Regions from separate parts of the Homo sapiens genome. Here region 2 is reported to be linked to region 1. The links are microRNA targets in miRTarBase. Many come from high-throughput screens and were not tested one by one. Region 1 holds a microRNA gene; the other region holds the end of a gene's coding sequence.
The links. Region 1 holds the annotated microRNA hsa-miR-5010-3p (UUUUGUGUCUCCCAUUCCCCAG, at 4,132-4,153, opposite strand). A microRNA usually pairs through its seed, bases 2 to 8, with sites in the 3' UTR of a target mRNA and lowers its output. Matches are read on the target gene's strand: a 7mer-m8 pairs with bases 2 to 8, a 7mer-A1 pairs with bases 2 to 7 and ends in A, and an 8mer does both.

Region 2: miRTarBase lists CDH12 as a target of hsa-miR-5010-3p. Seed matches in the 3' UTR shown: 7mer-m8 at 425-431 and 7mer-m8 at 466-472.

What each region holds. Positions count from the first base shown.
Region 1 is chr17:42,511,420-42,518,419 of GRCh38, reverse strand. MIR5010 (microRNA 5010) reads right to left here and starts at 4,232; the gene lies at 4,113-4,232. It overlaps ATP6V0A1 (ATPase H+ transporting V0 subunit a1), which reads right to left. Exons shown (of 22, transcript NM_001130021.3): 20 at 4,442-4,559; 21 at 3,960-4,131. RefSeq lists a silencer at 821-870 and an enhancer at 1,314-1,813.
Region 2 is chr5:21,744,988-21,752,102 of GRCh38, reverse strand. It overlaps CDH12 (cadherin 12), which reads left to right. Exons shown (of 15, transcript NM_004061.5): 15 at 1-1,430. The coding sequence ends at 366. Among named protein-coding and RNA genes, the nearest start is that of SNORA105A, 140 kb to the left of the region's middle.

The sequences.
Region 1 (7,000 bases):
CAATGATGGCAGCCTGGAACTACATTTCAAGAGTTCTGAGTTCTCCTGGGCAGCCATTCCCTCAACTGCTCCATGCTGTCATGCCGTGGCAACACTGCATTCCTAACAAGAAGCTGGTCCCCGATTCTGTCCCTTTAATCACCACCCAATCTGTGAGTGTACAGGTAGGTGTACATCTATGTGTATGTGGAATTCGCTAGGTAAGGAGAGACCAGGTTCCTTGGAAGGTATGCCCTGGGGCAATAGTTCTGCATAAAAATCAGTTTGATGTTTACAGTGATAACTACAATCAAATCCCTGTCTCATGCCTTCTCTGAGGAAGAAAAGATGTCTAATTATGGTAGGTAAGAAGCCAAGCACACTTCATGTGGCAGGAGGGAGGAAAAGAGAGAAAACTCAGGAGACAGAATTAGCAGATTAATACATTAGCCTGCTCACTGTTTTCAAACACATCACCCCCCTTCCTATGATGCTGCATGAATCTCACACTAGTGGTTTATATGTTATCGAATCAAATGTTTTTCTTATTGTCCCCACTGAGGAGACCAGAACTTGTATAATGGGGCAGCCCTTGAATCAGGAAACAGCAGGGATAAAGTGGGAGGTATGAAGATGCCTAGGATGGATGCCAGGAAGAACAGCAGCACCATCCCTACAGCTGGTTCAGCAGCCCCAGAGGCTCCACCCCTGGTAAGAGGGCCACAGCTCAGAACGCCTCCTGCAGTCCTGGGCCACAGGGAAGATCCAGGCATCCTGGACGCACAGCCGCATTTTGCCAGGAGGGGGCGCACAAGCACCAATTTCATTCACTTCTGTTTTAGTGGTGGGGGAGGCGCCCCACTCGTGTCACGGGAACAGCCCTCCAAAGACGAGATTCTGGAAGTTGCACAAAGGAGGTTTGCACTGTTTTTTCCTCTCCTACCCAATACTCCTATTGCCAAAATAAATACGACATATATGGGGAGGCTGTTCCTTGCAAACAGCACCTGAGGGCATTCTGATGGTATCCTCTGCCTCCTCTGGGGTCTTCTCTCACTCTAGACAGGCTAAAAGCAGTCTTTTTATGGGGGACCCCAGGCAGACACCCTCTCTCTAGGGCATCCCAGGTTTTTTTGTTGTTGTTGTTGTTGTTGTTGTTTTGAGACGGAGTCTCGGTCTGTCGCCCAGGTTGCAGTGCAGTGGCGCGATCTTGGCTCACTGCAACCTCCATCTCCTGGGTTCAAGCGATTCTCTTGCCTCAGCCTCCCGAGTAGCTGGGATTACAGGCGCCCACCATCACGCCCAGCTAATGTTTGCATTTTTAGTAGAGATGGGGTTTCACCATGTTGTCCAGGCTGGTCTCGAACTCCTGACCTCAGGTGATCTGCCTGCCTCAGCCTCCCAGAATGCTGGGATTATAGGTGTGAGCCATCGCACCCAGTAAGGGCATCCCACTTTTAAGCAGAGCAGCCACTACCCATCCTAGAGCACCTGCTTTTGCTGTGGCAGCACTTGGTGTGTGCATTACTTCCTACTTGCTCACAGTAATCTTGGCAGTGAATGTTCTGCTCAGGTTCCCTGCCTGGTGTGACAGTGCTGGAATTCCAACCCAGGTCGCCCAATTCCGGAGCCTGCTGTCCTGCCACTCATCACTTCAGTTCAGGGGGACCTGGGAAGACACGGGGAGGCCACAGGTGAGCCTGAGGAGGAAGCAATCTTCTGGCAACAAAATGAGGCTCAAGCCCAGGCGGCCTTGCTCTGCAACAGTGCCTTGCTCCCGCCCTGCCCAGGGAGATGACCGGCTACCCACGTGGGCTGGAATCAAGGTGAGGTGGTCACTGTTCCCTCAAACCCAGGGCTCAAGAGACAGGAGTGAAAAGAAAAGAAAGGAGGCCAAGGGGCAAGAAAAAGTGAGTCCTCAGAGGTTCTCGTGCACTGAGGAGGGCTGAGGAAGTGTGCTTGCGGGGGTCGGCTGATAAGCTTAGAACAGGGAGGCCAGCCAGATGAGCTGGGTGGGGAGGAGGGAGGCCAGGAGGGAGAGAGCCAGGCCAGAGGAAGCCAGGTCTACTGACGCAGCAGGGCTTTTGAAGAAGAGTGCACCCTAGCCACGTCTTGCCCTTCCATGCCTCACTCTCCGCCCATCATTCAGAAAAACCCACAGCTGAATCTTTGAGGAGGCTCAGGGGTCACCCAGCCATGAGAATAATCAAAGATAAAGGGGAGTGGGGAATGAGTTTCTCAGGTTCAGATGCTGGATTTTCTTCAGGTTTTGAGAACGAAGAGAGACATTCATAGTCCTCTTCTGGCCTTGAGATCATGAACACCACAGAGCATCCCATCCAGGGGCCTCTAAGGCACACCAGTGAGTCAGACCCCTATGCTTGTAAAACAGGAGAAGTGTGTGAGTGCTCCTCTGGGGAGAGGGGCCAGAACTTCCAGAGACATTGGGGTTTTGAGACCCCCAAAAAGAGAATCACAACATAAAGGAGAAAATAGAGACCCAAAGAAGTGGAGTCTGAGGTGGAACAGCCACAGAAAATACAGACTGCCCCAGTTTTTAGTATAAGCATATCCCATGCACATTTGGGAAATACTCATACTAAAAAAATTATTTGTTGTTTATGTGAAATACACCCTGTATTTTTATTTTTTGAGACCGAGTTTCACTCTTGTTGCCCAGGCTGGAGTACAATGGCGCGATCTTGGCTCAATGCAACCTCCACTTCCTGGGTTCAAGCGATTCTCCTGCCTCAGCCTCCCAAGTAGCTGAGATTCCAGGCATGCACCACCATGCCCGGCTAATGTTTTTGTATTTTTAGTAGAGACAGCGTTTCTCCATGTTGGTCAGGCTGGTCTCGAACTCCCCACCTCAGGTGATCCACCCGCCTCGGCCTCCCAAAGTGCTGGGATTACAGGAGTGAACCACCGTGCCTGGCCCCCAACCCCTCCCCTATTTTTTTTTTTTTTTTTTTGAGACAGAGTCTCGCTCTGTTGCCCAGGCTGGAGTGCAGTGGCACAATCTCAGCTCACTGCAACCCCTGCCTCCTGGGTTTAAGAGATTCTTTCCTGCCTCAGCCTCCTGAGTAGCTGGGATTACAGGCACGTGCCACCACACCTGGCTAATTTTTGTATATTTAGTAGAGACGGGGTTTTACCATGTTGGCCAGGCTGGTCTCGAATTCCTGACCTCAGGTGATTCACCTGCCTTAGCCTCCCAAAGTGCTAGGATTACAGGCATGAGCCACCGTGCCCAGCCAAACTGTACTTTTATGTGCTACATCTGGCAACGCTGGTTTGAGGTGGTCACAGCCCAGACCACACCCCCGCTCTCCCAGTCCCAGAGGCTGAACTCATGCTCTCTCCACACACAGCCATTAAGAGTCACAAGCTTCATTAAAGAAAACAAACAGAACCACCCCAAACCTGCCCATGTGAAGAAGCTGCGTGAGTGTACCGACCTCCACCCTATAGAGCCAGGAATCCCTCCGGTCCACAATGGAGCTGCCAGGGGTCCAACTCAAAGACCCCTGGCACAATGACAGAACAAAGAGGATAAAGCTGGGGTGCAGCGTGTTCTAGCCTTTCCTGCACTTAACATACATTCCAGAGCTGCTTCCACTGTTCTGAAGACAGAAGAGTTACACATCAGAGAGAAAACCAGAAACCCTAAGACCCCAGCAGCCCCTTTAAGCCAAAATCAGGAGCACTGGGGACAGCTAAAGGCAGGGAGCGGGACCTGACACCACTCACCAGGGACATCTCCCTAGAGCCTAGGGAAGGCTGAGCTGTGCTTTTCTGTGACCATTTTCCGAAACTCTGTGGCAATGCCGGTGCTGGGGTGTCCTGAGGTGAAGCTAGTGCAGGGCCAGCTCATCTTTCCTGCACAGAGCTGCAGGGCTGTGTGTGGGAGAAAAGCTGCCCTCTCACCGCAGCTAAGGACACATCCACCCCCATGCCCGCCCTGCCCCACTGCCCCTCACCAGTGTAAGCGCAGTGCGTGGAGAAAGGCCGAGAGGCCCTCCATGATCAGGAGGATGGCCACGGTCAGGGTGGCAAAGGCAGTGAAGAAGAAGAACAGCACCAAACCTCCCGCCAAGCTCTTCACGCTCAGGCCGATGTGGATCACCATGGTCCAAAGCACCTCAGACAGCTCTGGGGAATGGGAGACACAAAATCCAGTGCAGTTTGGCAAGAGGCAGCTGTAGGCCATGAATTTTGCTCTGCCATCCCCCTGCTCTAGGGTTCCCTGGATCCTGGCTTCCCACTGCCTTAGTGGGACCACCATGCAGAGCTAACCTGGCACAAGTGCTGAGCCTCCTGTCTGTACTCATTCTCCTTGGGTTCAGGAACCTGAATAATTCCAGAACCTTCATGTAATTTCCATTTGACTTAAGCCCCCCAACTGACAGTGCGCCCACAGAGGGGGAAACTAGAGTTCCGGAGCCCGGAGAGAGGTACTCACGCGCATGAGCGAGGCTGAGGGCCCAGAGCCGCAAGTAGGAGGCAGTGTTGGAGATGCAGCCCAGGCAGTACTCGATGGTGTGGATGGCCTGGTGGACCATGGTGTCCCCAAAGTCAAACTGTCGTGGGAGGAAACCAGAGAGAAGATATAAGGCTAGGAGGGGAACGTGCAGGCATTCTGAGTTGTGGCTACTTGGCGCTTTGAACCTGGGCCAGGGCAGGGGACTGCACTTCCCATGGATGGCACCTCAACTCTGGAGGGGCCAGAAGCACCCAGTGTTGAGCTCAGGTGGTGATTTCGGCAATGCCTTCCCCAAAAATCCTGCCTGACTTAGCCCTCACCTGGGACACCTCCATTCCCCTCAATACATTACATTTTAATTAACTACATCTTAATAAGATTCTTTTCAACACATTTGTTCTTCTCCCTCTGGGGCTCTGTGCTCAAGAGAGGAGTGTGTGCTGAGTTGACGGCACTCTGTTGAGAAAGTGACTGTCTGGGTCTGGGACCCTAAGGACCTGCAGGAGGGCAGGAAGGGATTTTCCCCAGAGTGCGCTTCAGGAGACAGACTCTCAACCCGGACACTGTCCTGAGAAGACTAGGCCTCTATGGCCACTTTACTTATTCTTTTTACAGCCTTTTGGGAGCAAGATAACCTTCTTTTTCTTTTGTGACTTCTAAAGAGATTACACGGTGAATTTTTTTTTCCCTACATGATTTCACCACCATGCACAGGGAAATCCTGACAAAGTTTACAAATTTCCACATGGGTTAAGGCCAAACAGCATATCTGTTTGGGTTAAGACTAAATAGCATATCTCCAGTTTCTTGTTTGTTTTCGTTTTCCTCAAGCTCCCTTTGTCCCAGTTTTCCTTTCAATACCAAGAATTATTTCCAGAATAAAGGAATGGGCTGGAACAAGCTCTTGGGAGTGAACTTTCAGGTTTGCTCCAAGCACAGTCAGGGGTGAATGTGGGCTTCTGAATTTGGTATATTCTGGAAGCCCCAGGTACTTTCCCTGGGCCTCTCTGTCAAGCTGACCAAAGACCAGGAGGCGCTCCCTTATGGGGCTTCCCCCCGCAGAGCCCAGACCAGAATCTTCTGAGCTTTCAGACACTCCTGAGGGCTCAGTGGCCTCCCCATCGGCCCCTGCCCTCAGGTCAGGGTCTATTTTTCACCGCAGTTCCTTTCAAAACCCACGTGATTCCACTCCCAAAGGACACCAGAAATGCCTTGGGAAATCACTGAGAACATGGGGATGGGAGAAAGTGGCTTGGCTGGTAAAGCCACAACAGCCCAGGCCACAGGGGTGCAGCCAGCGTGGAGGGGGCTGGCTCCACCATGCCATCTCTGGGCGAACGTCTGCTTCTCCCTCACCTCTGTCGACACCTAGCCTATTTCTGGGCTTTTCTTCCGGAACAGGCTCTTCAAGCTTCCTTACTTACCCTGAAAACTAGGGTAATCCTAGTTCCCTGAGTTCCCTAAATCCCAACACCGTGGTTAAGAGCTCTTTCCTACCACTGCTGGCTGCCGCCCCAGGGCCCGCATTGAGAGGAAGAAGTCCATGGCTCCCAGGAGTGCTGATCTCTACTCCTATGGGCTGGGAGGGCAGTGACCACTGGGCTCCCTTACAGCCAATCCCTTCAGTGTTTTTATTCTACCTCAAGTTTCTCCCACCGAATAAACTGCAGGACAGGAGAGAAGCCTCGCTTCCAGGCCTTACCCTTGCCTTCTCTCCTTCATTCCCAGCTTCCTGCAGGTGTTCTCAGGAGAAGCAAGGACTGGGTGAGAAATCCAGCTCAGCACTTATGAGTCTGCCACTCAGCACACGCCCGTATCAATCGGCCATGACCAACCATGAATCGCTGCAGAGTCCCTGTCCACATCTTCTGCCTCAGTTTCCTCTCTGCCCAGCCAGTCCTCACCCTACTGCACCCTGGCTTCCACCTTCACTCCTCCACAAAATGCCTCTACTTAGTAAGGTCACCCTAACCTCCCAGTTGTTACTTTTTTTTTTGAGACGGAGTTTCACTTGTCACCCAGGCTAGAGTGCAGTGGTGCGATCTCAGCTCACTGCAACCTCTGCCTCCCGGGTTCAAGCAATTCTCCTGCCTCAGCCTCCTCAGTAGCTGGGATTACAGGCACGCACCACCACACCCGGCTAATTTTTTAGTAAAGATGGGATTTCACCATGTTGGCCAGGCTGGTCTCAAACTCCTGACTTCAGGTGATCCACCCACCTTGGCCTCCCAAAGTGCTGGGGATTACAGGCGTGAGCCCCCGCGCCTGGCCCAGCTGTTAAAGCTAACAGATGTTCTGTGCCCTTGTCCATGCTCCTGCAGTGTCTGTCACCATAGCCTCTTCCTCCTTTTTGAAATACCTGCCATCCCTTGGTTTTCCTCCTACCTCTCTGGACAGTTCTTTTTAGTCTCCATCGAGGTTCTTCCTTTTTTTTTTCTTTTTTCAAGACAGGAGTGCAGTGGCACGATCTCAGCTCACCACAACCTCTGCCTCCCAGGAGAATCAAGTGATTCTCCTCTCTCAGCCTCCCGAGTAGCT
Region 2 (7,115 bases), not on the chromosome of region 1:
GACATCGGGGCTCTGAGAAACCCAAAAGTGATTGAGGAGAACAAAATTCGCAGGGATATAAAACCAGACTCTCTCTGTTTACCTCGTCAGAGACCACCCATGGAAGATAACACAGACATAAGGGATTTCATTCATCAAAGGCTACAGGAAAATGATGTGGATCCAACTGCCCCACCATACGATTCACTGGCCACATATGCCTACGAAGGGAGTGGGTCCGTGGCAGAGTCCCTCAGCTCTATAGACTCTCTCACCACAGAAGCCGACCAGGACTATGACTATCTGACAGACTGGGGACCCCGCTTTAAAGTCTTGGCAGACATGTTTGGCGAAGAAGAGAGTTATAACCCTGATAAAGTCACTTAAGGGAGTCGTGGAGGCTAAAATACAACCGAGAGGGGAGATTTTTAAAAAAGAAAAAGAAACACAAATATTAATAGAAATCTCTCTCACACACACACACACACACAAACACACACACACACACACACACTCTGGGACAAGATTCCTTTGATTACCTGGTTTCTAGTAAGTTACTAAATTAATCATATTGTCAGTTTTGGTTTATTCTGCCAACAAGAGATACATCCTATAATGTGTACTTGCTTTGTTTTGTTGTTTTGTTTTTTCACAATCACACTGAGACAAGCTCAGGCCTATTCAATACAATTTACTGACATGACAACCTAGAACGAAGATAGCTATGTGGCATCACGGTGGAAGAGTGTTAGATTTTTCTTAATTCCACTAAAGTGCCTATTGAAACTCTTATCATTTAAAGTGGTGTACAGTACACTCTGCTGTGATGGTATTGCGGGATTCAGAGATAAAGACATAAAACAAAGACACCGTCTTTATGTCAAGAAGCAATAGCGACACTCTGACTCTCCTCATTCCTTTTGAGAACAAAAGAAGAACACTTTCTGATCTCCACCTTCTTCTAATTCAAAAGGTTTTCTTTTTCTTTTTTAAACTGTATGCTAAAACGTATTTGTTTATCCTATCCTTTCAGAAAATTGAAATAAATATGAAAATATCAAGTTCAATATGTAAGTCCCAAATTCTAGAAACAATGTTTGATCTTAACATTAGTTCACATTAAAGCTGTTCATTAAAATGTTACTTTCTTTTCCAAAAAAAAAAGAAAGAAAAAAAAGAAAAAATATTCCTCTTTATAAAGAGAGGCCTCAGGGCTCAAATTACACATTAAAATAAATATTGGTTTTGCTTAATATTGTACTGGTGTGTGGAAAATTGGTTTTAACAGTCACCAGATTCAGCTTTTAGTCATAGATGTAATTTCAAGTTGTGTTTCTATGAAAATTCTTAGAAGAAAAAAGTGCCATTCATTTAAGCATGGAAAGAGAAATTCATTATACAGTTTCTCAGAGTTTCTTACAATCTAGTGATTCTTTGATGAGCAGCAAAAATAAAATACATATCAAATAATAGAGGATGGATTTATAAGATGTCTAAAAATATTTGTTATACATTATTGAAAAAAATAAAAAATCAGGGACTTAAAAAAGTTCAAACCAATGACTGAATCCTAAAATGAACGTAAATTCAATTTCAGGCAGCTGATATACTTACTTTACTTACATGGACTTCAACTTTGTGAGCACCATTATTATATTGGAGCTCATAGTTACCTCTTTGTTCTCTCATCTACAAAAATCTTAATGTAAATTATCCCTTACAAATTCCGTGTAATGATGCAAATTTCTAAGTAATATTAGATTTTATAAGCGCATTAGTAAACTAAACTCACATACATTGCTTTCAAGCGGATTGCACACTAGCGTGGAAAACATAAAAAGATGCAAACTAATTACAAAATAATATATTTTATATGAATATGATAACTACTTAAGTGACTACTCTAATATTGTCACTATATATATGAAAAAAATTAAAGTTGCTTATGGGTCCATCCTGAAGATATGGTCACTATCTAGCTGGGTTTATGAAATACTTATAGATATATTTAATATTTGCAAGGTTTTGAAGCTAAAAATTTACACATGACAAAAACAGGCAGAAATATAGACAACACAAGAAAATCATATTCACCGTTATTCATTTATAAATACATCCTTTAAAATGATCCAACTACTCACTATGCTGTGGCAATGGGGGCATTTGAATTCACATTCCCCATTTCTTTGTTGATATCTCCCAGTTGCATATTCTCATTTTCTCCCTCTCAGGAATGGCTGTTGAACTTGTTTTCTTCCATCTCATCCCAATTTTACCTTTGTCTATCCCAAGAACTGCATTATAATATTGATGTAGTGTGATAATTTATAGTATGTTTGGGAAAGTATTTACATAACATGTTTTAAAAGCTGGTGATGCCATAACCATCCTAGAGAGAAAAATTAGGACAATTTTGGGATTTGCCTTAGCAACATGATTTGCTATGGATTGATATATAACCCCTGAAGAAGCTTACTATGCAAGATTACTTCTGATAGACAAAAAGATTCCCATCAGGAATTGCTGCATTTTGCATTTTGCTAGGAAATCTAACTGCCTCTGCATGAGATCATTTGGCAGAAGCAACGGTAGCATGGAGAAAACTTGTGAGGGGCAGGTCATTTCAAACTTCATGGCTGAGGTGCTAAACAAAAATATGAAATAAGTAGATCTTATTTTCACCAAACTGTTAAATACTTTTGAGTACATCCGGCTTTTATTTTTGCCACACCACTGCATTCCTTTGCTAGGTCTGCCATAACAAAATATCACAGACTGAGTGACTTAACCGAAATGTATTTTCTCACAATTCTGGAGGCAAAACATCCAAGATCAAGGTGTTGACAGAGTTGATTTCTCCTGGGAGTCCCTCCTTGGCTTGCCCATGGCCGTCTTCTCTCTGTGTGTTCACATGGTACTCCCTCTGTGCTTACTCATGTCCTAATTGCTCTTCTTATAAAATACACCAGGCCGGGCGCGGTGCCTGTAATCCCAGCACTTTGGGAGGCCAAGGTACATGGATCACCTGAGGTCAGGAGTTCAAGACCAGCCTGGCCAACATGGCGAAACCCTGTCTCTACCAAAAACACAAAAATTAGCTGGGCGTGGTGACAGGCACCTGTAATCCCAGCTAGTCCAGAGGCTGAGGCAGACAGAATTGCTTAAAACCCAGGGGGCAGAGGTTGCAGTGAGCTGAGTTGTCACCACTGCATTCCAGCCTCGGCAATAGAGTGAGACTCTCTCTCAAAACCAACAAACAAACAAACAAAAACAAAAAAAAGATGCCAGTTATACTGTATTAGGACCCACCCATAATAGCTCTTTTTATCTTGATTACCTCTATAAAGGCTCTGTCTCCAAATATAATCACATTGTGAGTTGCTGGGATTTAGGACTTCAACATATGATTTTTGAAGAGACACAATTCGGCCCATATCAATCACACAGGTGTTCATCATATTTTCTTTTTTAAAAACTGGCTTGGTTTAAAACACACACAAAAAAACCCAAATATATGGAAAAAAATGAATAGAAATGATTTCAGATACAATGGGTCACCAGAGGAGAGATATGGGGAAAAGAGGTCTTTGGTGCTCGTAAATATAAATATTATGGGATACATTTTATGCTATGACATCACACTAGGCCTAATATTTCAATACTTATAACATGTTGGGTTCTGTTTTATTTATAATAACAAAATTACTGACCTTCATTTAAGCATTAAGCACTATAAAAATGTTTAGAATTTATATGGGGAATTTTGACTATTAATAATAATTAAACCATAATTTTGTTATTGCCTTGCATGTTTACTTTTATAGAAGTATGTATGTATGTATTATATGTAACATATGTGTGTTACTTATATCTATTTTTAAATGTTACATTTAATTATATTCAATGAAGTATTAGATCAACACATATGAGTGAAACGATGTGATATGCTAGAAATGATCTAAAATTACTTTTGTACCAAATTCTCACCAGAAATATGGGTCAAGCTCCTTAGCCTCCCAGTGTTCTGTTTTCTTTGGCAAAATTAATTTGTTGAACTTAGTGTTGTACAAATTTCCTCTAAAATGTCTTGATTCTGAAATTCTAGTGACAATCTTATGAAGTTCACTAAATCATTTAAATATTGACTACATATAATTATGAGAATCACAGAGAACCTTTAAGCATAATATAAGAATTAGGAATCTTTGAACTATGGATTGCATTGGTTATACATTAAAACTCACCGCTTCTACAACATAAGAGGAGCCAGACAAACATTTCCTAGGTGCAAATGTCAAAATTCTTCTGCAAGATTGAAAAGCAGAGGTGTACATATGAAAAGAGAGAAAAAAGTGTTAAAATAGTTAGGCCCAGATCTTGAGCCAAACAGGATAAACAAATGGTAGGAAGAAAAAATTAGAAGGGATGTGCTATTGCCCACAGAAATCCTTGGAAAATTTCAGTAACTATTTTATTAAAAATGGGAATTCCTAAAACCACATGTCAATACGCAGGCCTTATATTTGAAGTGACCCCTAAGTTATTACTAGACCTGAAGAAAGAGTTTATTAAATGTCAATAAACAGCCTGAGTTTGGTTACTAAAGGAAGGGACATGTGTATGTGGTGGTAGGTGTGTGTTATTTTCATAAATTACTCCTTCCTTGAATTTATTTATTTATTTATTTATTTATTTATTTATTTATTTGCCTCATCAATCTGTAGTTTGGCTAGGTACATAATTCTCATTTGAATTATGTTTTTTAAATGATTTCCTCAATATTCTGAAAACAGTTTCTCTCATATTTTAGCATCCAACTGAGGTGATGAGATAGCATAGTGACCATGTCATTCTTTTCTATGTGATATGGTTTTTTGCATAATGGTCTTCTTTTTTTTATCCTTATTGTTATAAAATTTCACATGGACGAGTCAAGAGGAGTTTTTTTTGGTCATTCTCAGGACTTGGTATTCCATGACCCCTTTCAACAAAGAGCTTCAGAACCTTTAGTTCTGAGATATTTTTCCTGCAATCATTCTTCAATAGTTTCCTACCCTGCGTTTTTCTGTTATCTCTGTGGAATTTTGAATCTTTGGTTTTTGGATGTTCTAGGTTTAAGCACTAATTATATTTTAACTATCACTTTCTGTCTTATACTTTATTTTCATGGTGATATTTTCCTCTTTGTCTTCTAGTTCTATTGATTTTTTTTTGTAGTGGTTTTTTTAAAAAAAATGTTAATTTCAGGAGTATTTTGTTGTTCTGTTCTCTGTCTTTTTTTATATTATTCTGCTCTTACTTTTAGATCAGTCTTTTCTTGACTCACTCTGATGATGTTAATTGCAGCTTTTTACATTTTGTAATCCTATTTTTTTCCTCCGAATTATGTTCTTCAAACACAGCATGGGAAAGGGAGCTACAGACTTCCATTCTACTTTATTCTAGTTCACCCTCATGTCTCATTCCAGTTTTCTGCCATATGATATGTCCAAATCATGACACATCCTAGGATTGTGATGAGAAGATAAGTTTTCTACTGAGCTGCAACACTGATTCCCTAGTCTGCAAATTTTCTGCCCAGCTTCACCCACTATTGTTCTGTTAGCCTTCCAAACATTTACGCAAAATATTTGTCTGCTAATGGACCTTATGGCATTCTCTTTATTTTTGTGGGGATACACACATACGCACACACATATACAAAAACATGTATATGCACATATACATAACATAGAAATAATATATAGAAAGTTTTTATAAATATATATTCTTTTATCTTCAACTTATAATATCATAAGTTTTTCTTAGTTTGAAAAGGATATAAAATGAAATACAATCAGTCATAATGACCCAAAATCTGAAAAAGAAATCTGATCATTTTATTTTATATCCATTGTTATAAAAAAAGAGGTTAATTCTAGTGTGTATGTGTATTACACACACACATATACACATATATATGTATTTACGTGTGTATAAGTCCAGTTTGCATTGTGGACTGCCACTTAAGCCTTTAATTATTTATTTTCTTAAAAACCAATTGTCACGGATTTTCATAACAATCAATTTTATTTACTAAATTTCTCAAAAGTTCTTAAACTTTATTAGGGTTTAATTGTATGTCGTTTTAATTGTCCCACTTTAAAATAAAAAGAAAAAATAGAAGGCAAGAGTGCCCAAACGACTTGGGCAAAACCATGAAATAATAAACAACTATAGGGTAAAGCCCTTTTCTTAATTGTGAATAATTAAATAACTCTTATCTAAACTTTCACTCTGATGCTTTTTCCCTTCTTTTTGTAACTTCTACACTATTATTTGTTACACTGTAATGGCAAGGTAAATTAACATGGATCTCTGGGAATTATGGATCATACTACAATATATTGTTATACTTCCTTATAAAGAAGAAATAACCTAAACATTATTTATTCTTATGTCAATATCTTACTCAAGAAGCAAGAATGAAGGACACAATAGGTTTCCATAGTACAGGTGAAAACTCTGTTATACAATGGAAAATATTCATGTCTATATTACCAAGAATTCAATGTATTTGAAGCTAAATCACTTTGCACCTCCTTTTAAACATTGACATTTACCATCTCAACACTACCCTGACCTTAACTTAGTTGGACTTTTCAATCTAATTATGTCTAATTTCATGTCTTTTTAGCTTCCCATAGGTGTAGCTATACCTTAGCCCACATCATCACTTAAATCTCTAAAATGGAATTTATTTAGTCTCTTCCTATCCATTTTTCTATGGATATGGTGTTTGCCATGACTCAAAATTACATGAAACAATCAGGAATTCTTTCTTTCTTCTCTTCTGCTCTGCTGGGTTTTTTTAAGTAATAGCAATAATAGAGCTACTAATCATTGAGCATATGCTATGTAGACAATTATGCTACAAGCATTTAAGGCTTACTTGATGAGCCACATATTACCATTATATTTATTTTACATATGAGTAAATTAGGCTTGAATAGGTGAAGTAACATGTCTGTTTAGTCACAACTGACAAGTGGCAGAGCCAGGACACTAGCAGAATTATGATATGCACACGCCACCCCTTTACCCATGAGATACAGCATATTGCACTCTCCTGCCTCACTCCTTTATAACTGGGTAAC